Homo sapiens: one gene and its partner. The protein of the gene in region 1 interacts with the protein of each later gene in a pairwise test. Each region holds a gene or a part of one and is shown in the gene's direction. Other genes may lie near its edges.

What was found.
Region 2: the proteins of SH3GL1 (region 1) and SH2D4A interact in binary tests that used the Homo sapiens proteins (3 or more experiments, as listed by UniProt).

What each region holds. Positions count from the first base shown.
Region 1 is NC_000019.10:4,394,046-4,397,700, reverse strand, and holds part of SH3GL1 (endophilin-A2), read left to right. Parts: intron 1-3,655. UniProt on the Homo sapiens protein: Implicated in endocytosis. May recruit other proteins to membranes with high curvature.
Region 2 is NC_000008.11:19,334,193-19,337,847, forward strand, and holds part of SH2D4A (SH2 domain-containing protein 4A), read left to right. Parts: intron 1-493; coding exon 494-665; intron 666-3,655. UniProt on the Homo sapiens protein: Inhibits estrogen-induced cell proliferation by competing with PLCG for binding to ESR1, blocking the effect of estrogen on PLCG and repressing estrogen-induced proliferation. May play a role in T-cell development and function.

The sequences.
Region 1 (3,655 bases):
TTTGAAATCAGATGGCCTGGCCCTGGGTTAGACCTTGCCCAGCAGGCGTCAGACCTTCACCTGCTTGGTTAGAGCACCATAGAGTACTGCTCCCTAGCAGGAAAGATGTCCTCAGAGGTCTTGGAGGAATTCCTGGGCCACTTTGTTCCCTGCTATAGACAGGTCTCTGGAAGCCACCACCCCCACTCCCAGCGATCAGGGCCTGTGCCCATATTGTCCTGAGCTGACACCCTCTTTAGAGGAATGAACCAGGCCTCTTGTGCCGGCCACCAGGACTTTGTCTCTCTCAAGGGAAGCAGGATGACCTGCGTTCAGATCTGTGAATGGCGCCTTGAAGCCTGGAAAGGACAGTGTGGTGTTAGCTGGGCTTAGGATTGCCTATTTCCACATCCCGAGGCCTAGTCCCAAAGCACAATGGCCACAGCCCACCCTCGGGGCTGTCGTCTTGGCCTCCTGGTCAATTCTGTCCTGAGTCGTGCTCTTAGAAGTCACCCTGGCTGCGTTCCATGCTCTTCTGTGATCATTGCCATGGTTCCCTCTGACATCTCAGCTGTTATCTGGACGTATCCGACTATTTGTGTCTCTTTTTTTGTTTTTAGTCTAATAACAACTCTTTCACCCTCTGCTGTGCCTGTTGGAAAGTGACATCTCTCGGGATCTCTCATTACGTAGTGATACAAACATTTATTGAGTTCTCACCATGTGAGCAGGCAGTATGCTTTATACCAGTAGGTCTCAGCTGGTCTTGCTTATCCGGTCTAAGGGTAAAAAACATTCCCCCTTTTACACAAAAGGATTAGGGGACATTTATCTTCCTGTAAAACAGGGCCAGTTCTGTCCTCCAGGGGACATTGACAATGTCTGGGACCTTTTTGGTTGTCACAGCTTGGTGCGGTGCTGCTGGCTACTAGTAGGTAGACGATATTGCTGGACATCCTCCGGTGCCCAGGGCAGCATCTCCCCACTGCCCCCAAGAATTACCTGGCCCCAAATGTCAATAGTACCAAAATTTGAGAAACCCTGCTTGAAGATTTGGAAAAAAAATGAGGATAATTATACCAAAACAAAGGAACAAAAAAATCCCCACTGAGCCATTCTTACGATTTTCCTAGTTTGGCCAGGTGTGGTGGCTCACGCCTTTAATCCCAGCAGTTTGGGAAGCACTCCAGCCTGGTGGATGAGAGCGAGACTTCGTCTCAAAAAAAAAAAAAGTAAAATATAAAATAAAACAAAGATTTTCCTAGTTTGCTAAACACAGATAGCCACATGTGTAGTTTGTTTTTGTTTGTTTGTTTGTTTTTGAGACGGAGCTTCTCTCTTGTTGCCCAGGCTGGAGTACAATGGCACGATCTCGGCTCACTGCAACCTCCGCCTCCTCTGTTCAAGCAATTCTCCTGCCTCAGCCTCCCGAGTAGCTGCGATTACAGGCACCCACCACCATGCCCCGCTAATTTTTTTGTATTTTTAGTAGAGACGGGGTTTCACCATGTTGGCCAGGCTGGTCTCGAACTCTTGACCTCGGGTGATCTACCTGCCTCAGTCTCCCAAAGTGCTGAGATTACAGGCATGAGCCATGGCACCCCGCCCCACAGGTAGATATTTACATAAAACTCAGCATCCAGACCCTAAGGTCGAGCCCACCCTCAAGTCTTTAGGAAAATTCGAGTGTCTTTCAGTATCTGGGCTTCTTTTTTAGGGGGGAGCTAGATCCACCATAAACATTTTATGTGTATATGTACACCGTTTATCATATACATATTGTGACAACTGTATATATATATATATATTTTGAGACAGAGTCTTGCTCTGTCACCCAGGCTGGAGTGCAGTGGCGCAATCTTGGCTTACTGAGACCAACCTCCGCCTCCCGGGTTCAAGCGATTCTCTTGCCTCAGCCTCCTGAGTAGCTGGGATTACAGGTGCGCCACCACACCCGGCTAATTTTTTTTGTATTTTTAGTAGAGACAGGGTTTCACCATGTTGGTCAGGCTGGTGTTGAACTCCTGACCTCATGATCTGCCCGCCTCAGCCTCCCAAAGTGCTGGGATTACAGGTGTGAGCCACCGTGCCTGGCCTAAACAACTTGTATGTATACATACACTGTTTATCATATATACGTATTGTGGCAACCATATGTATGAATAAGCCTTCAAAAGGTGAGCACCTGTATTTCCTGGTAATTGACAATGTCAGTTTTGTGTGATGTAGTCTCTATGGAATTTCCCGTACATATGATGACAGAAACAAAGACTGAAACATGGTTCACAGAGAAACACAGAACATACATGACTCTCAGAATAACCATGTCTGCTGCTGTGTAGGGAACTCTTTGAGAGGAAACACTTTCACTGCTGGCCTCAAATGCCACTATCCACTTAGGTTCTTCAGTGTGAACCTTTAATTCAAAAGTACCTTCCAGCTGATCACGAGGAACCTTTATCGCTTGCACCTGAGGAGGTCAGGGCTGCAGGGAGCCCTGATTGTAGCACTGCACTCCAGCCTGGGAGACAGAGCCAGACCCTGTCTCCAAAAAAAAACACCATTTACAGTGACTTAGAAAAGGGACAGTTTCCAGTGCTACACACAATGGTTCCATACACAGCTTAAAGGTTTCCAGTTCTTTGCTGGAACTTGATTTAATAGTTGAGAGCCACAGGCATCGGGGCTCCTGAAGGAGGGGCACGCGCCCATCAGCGCTGTCAGCCGGGGATGGCGCAGACCCCTTCCTTGGCTTGGCAATGTCGGAGACAGTTGTTATCGCAACTTTGGGAGAGAATGCTCATGGCATCGAGGGGATAGGGGCCAGGGATGGTTGCCAAGCATCCTACAATGCATAGGACAGCTTCCCCCCGCTGCAAAGGAAGAATTCTCCAGCCCTACGTCAGTAGAGTTGAGCTTAAGAAACCCTGCTTTAAACCAGGCTCTAGACTTCCAAGGGTTCTTACGGTGTCCTTTCTAAATTGATCAACAGAGGCCGGGAGGATGCGGGAGAGAGTGCTGGAAAAGATAAACTTACTTTCTAACAGGCGAGGCTGTGTTGTTGGTTCTGAGTTTCTGATCTCTCGTTGGTGATAATGGTAAGAACCTTAGTGGGTTCCAGGCTAGTTCATCTCCCTGCAAAACCTTTTGGGAACTTGTTCAAAATTGGTTTGGGCTTGAGTGGGCAGTTTGTGAGTTTTTACTTCTTGTCATGAACTGGCCATAGACTGGTTGAGGGCCTGAGCTGGGGAAAGTTGAATCATCTGGAAGAAAGCAGTAAAAAGCCGTCCGTCATGGTCCCATCTCCCTGGTTCCCTCCTTTCTGCCTGTGTGACACCCACTCCCTCAAGAGCCTCCTGGCATCCGTGCGCAGCTAGAACTGGGGGACTAAGGAGGGTGAAAGAATGCCGCTAGCGAGAGCTGCTCTCAGAAGTTCCCTTGGTGTGCTGGGGGTTTGGGTGACATTATTTCCAGGCTTAAGCTGCTAACTGGCTTCCTGATAAATCTTGTGGCCGGGCTGTGTGAGATTGAGAGTGTAACTAGGGGTAGAGCTGGCAGCTGCCTGGAATGCTGGCTTTTTTTTTTTTTTTTTTTTGCCTGAAAGGAGGGAGAGGGTTTGAACATTTGAATGGAAAGATTGCTTCAGACTGAGCTAGGAGGGACATTCACAAGCGTC
Region 2 (3,655 bases), on another chromosome or scaffold:
TCAGTTCCCAAGGGCTAGGGATGCAAAGCAGACTCTGTGGCACAGTGGATGGTGCATTGGACTTTCAAGGGCTGGGATGCTGCCCACTAGTGCCTGTAACTTTAAAACTATCCATGGACATATGAAGATAAAGGAATTATTTAATCATCGATTGGAAGCAGACGGTGTGGTTCTAATAGGTTAACTTCTAAACCAGGAGTTGAGCAGACCAGGGTTCAGATCTTGGCTGTACCACTATGTGGTCTTGGATGAATTACAAAATTTCTTGGAGCTCTTATAACAAAGTGAGGATGACAATGCCTTCCTCACAGGGTTGTGATGAGGATGAAGTTAACGTCTTTACACACCTAGCAAAGGGCCCAGCATGTTAGAAGCACTCAGTAAGTGGTGTCAGTTACTGTTTTTCACATAATTTGAATGTCGACATATGCTTTGGAAAGGCTCTTCCTGTTGAAGAATGTTTTTTGAGAATTTCACTTTTGCCTCTCTTCAGAAAAACTCACTCTGAAGAATTCACCAATAGCTTGAAAACAAAATCACAGTACCATGATCTGCAGGCTCCGGATAACCAGCAGACTAAAGACATCTGGAAGAAAGTGGCAGAAAAGGAGGAACTGGAGCAAGGATCGAGGCCAGCACCAACCCTGGAAGAAGAGAAAATCCGAGTGAGTCCTTACTGTCTGTAGACGTGCGGAATTTCATCATGGGGGAGAAAAAGCTATTGAGGCCACAGAGACTACTGTGGCTGAGTGTCAGGATCCTCCAGTGGCTTTCTTGGGAGAAATGCCTCCTAACTTTAAGATCCTCCAGGGCAGGCACGGTGGCTCATGCCTGTAATCCCAGCACTTTGGGAGGCCAAGGCGGGCGGATCACGAGGTCAGGAGATCGAGACCATCCTGGCTAACACGGTGAAACCCCGTGTCTACTAAAAATACAAAAAAAAAAATTAGCTGGGCGTGGTGGCGGGCGCCTGCAGTCCCAGCTACTCGGGAGGCTGAGGCAGGAGAACGGCGTGAACCTGGGAGGTGGAGCTTGCAGTGAGCCGAGATTGCGACACTGCACTCCAGCACTCCAGCCTGGGCGACAGAGCGAGACTCCATCTCAAAAAAAAAAAGATCCTCTTGCTCATGTCACTTGGGGGATTTACCTTCCATGCTACATCATGGAAAATAAAGCACCCCTATTTCATGAGACTGAAAGTAACAAGAACGCTAGGAATGCAATTTGGCATTTTAAGATATTTTCAGGTTCTCCTCAATGCTGCCCCATTATATGTCTTCTGTTACAGCAGAGGTTGGCAAACATTTTCTGTAAAGTGCAACATAGTAAATGGTTTAGGCTTTATGGGCCATGCCATCTTTGTCACAGCTATACACAAATGAATGAGCATGGCTGTGTTCCAATAAAACTTTATTTTCAAGCACAGGCTGAGGGGCAGATTTGGCCTGTTCATGATTTAGATTACATTCTACTGAGTCTTAGCCTTTTTGTTGCGGATTCTAAACATCAGTGCCTGTTGGGCTTCATTGGCTCTGCCTGTGACTTGGGGACAGTTACCTCCCCAACATAATAGAAATTTTATACTCAGAATTGGTATGAATTCTCTTATGGTTCAGATGGTTTAAAAAACTCAAACATAATTTGCTGGTTGGATTATAGTTTGGGAGAACAATGAAACACCTTATTATTCTACCAGGAATTTAATTACACTGAGAATTAACAGGGATTTGCAGTTGTTTGATTTCCATTTATGTCTCCAGCCCTGCAGCACTGGCTGTGTGTGCTTTTGACTTCTTTGAGGCTATCATATGGGAATACAGGTATCTCCTGCCTCCTCCTAGGACCTAGTGAGACTCTGATAACTAACATGGTCAGGGGTTATTCCACAGCAAAGCACACTGCTGAGTGTCTCATGTAATCCTCACAATAACATGAACTAGAGACATTTGTCCATTTTACAGCTGGGGAAACTGAGGCTAGGTGTGGTTAAGCAACCTGCCCAAGGTCTTATTCAAACCCAGGTCTGCAGGACCCCCAGGCTATTCCTTAAATATTAACTACTAACTCCTTAATTCTTAACTCTCATGTTTGGTTGTGTCATTAATATGAGGGCTATGAAGAAGCTTTTTATGAAGGGCTACAAATATGAGGCTCAAAATATTTAGGAAGAGAAAATTCTAAATTTGGTTTTTCATCTCAAGGTCAGCCCTGGACATGCTCCCCACATCCTCATTGAGGCCTCCCGTCCTCCCCAGGTGTGCTTTGCACTCAGCATGTGTAACACTAAACTCCCCCAACACGGCTCCCCTTCCCACACCCCTCCAACCAAGAACAACAGTAATAACAAGAAAGCTCCTTCCAGAGTATTAATTATGCAGCTGAGTGTGTTTGCTCACACTTGTAATCTCAGTGCTTTTGGAGGCCGAGGCAGGAGGATCCCTTTTGAGGCCAGGAGTTCCAGACAAGCCTGGGCATAATCCTGCAGAGACAGTGAGACCCCCATCTCTACAAAAAATTAAAAAAAAACAGCCAAGCATGGTGGTGCATGCCTGTAGTCCTAGCAACTCAGGAGGCTGAGGCAGGAGGATCGATTGAGCCCAGGAATTTGAGGCTGCAGTGAGTCCTGATTACACCACTGTACTGTAGCCTGGGGGACCAAGTGAGACCCTAAGTCTTAAAAAAAAGTATTAAGTATGTATGCTTATATTTGTGCTTGAATTACAGTACTTTTTTAGACCTTTTTTTTTCAAAAGTAGGACAAAAGATTAAAATGGAAATTAAAATAGATACCACAGTTATTATTCTTTAACCATCTCATAAATATTATATTGAGAGTGGCACTGTTGCCTTCCTTAGGTGCCTGCTAAACTGACATATGGAAAGAGATGGGGGCAGGGGAGAAAGAAATATTCAGATAGAAGGAATATGGAAATAGATGGGTGACAGGTTTTTATATTCCTGCTTTTTATCTTTCCCTGTGTCAGAGAAGATGCTGTCAGGGGCTCCTGTGGTATTTGCTGAAGTTCACTCTGACAGCAGGCCACACAGCGAGGAGCCTGATTTCACAGCTAGTGTGAGCCTTTAAAGAGGTCGTCTGCTACCTCTCAGACAACTGACTCGATGGTACATTTATATTTTTATTGTAAGTTGTGTATATGTCACTATAGTGGTCTGAATATTTATCCCCCGAAATTTATGTCCACCTAGAACCTCAGAATGTGAGCTTATTTGGAAATAGATCTTTGCAGATGTAATTAAAGTAAAGGATCTCAAGATGAGATCACCCTGGATTTAGGGTGGATCCTAAATCCCAAGACAAGTGTCCTTATAAGAGGAGAGCCAAGGAAAATGTGAGAGAGAGTGTACTAGTCTGTTTTCATGCTGCTGATAAAGACATACCCAAGATTGGGCAGTTTACAAAACAAAGAGGTTTAATGGACTTACAGTTCCATGTAGCTGGGGAGGCCTCACAATCACTGTGGAAGGTGAAAGGCACGTCTAACATGGCAGCAGACAAGAGAGCTTGCGCAGGGAAATTCCCATTTATAAAACCATCAGATCTCATGAGACCCACTCACTATCACAAGAACACCATGGGAAAGACCCACCCCCATGATTTAACTGCCTCCCACCAGGTTCCTCCCACAACACATGG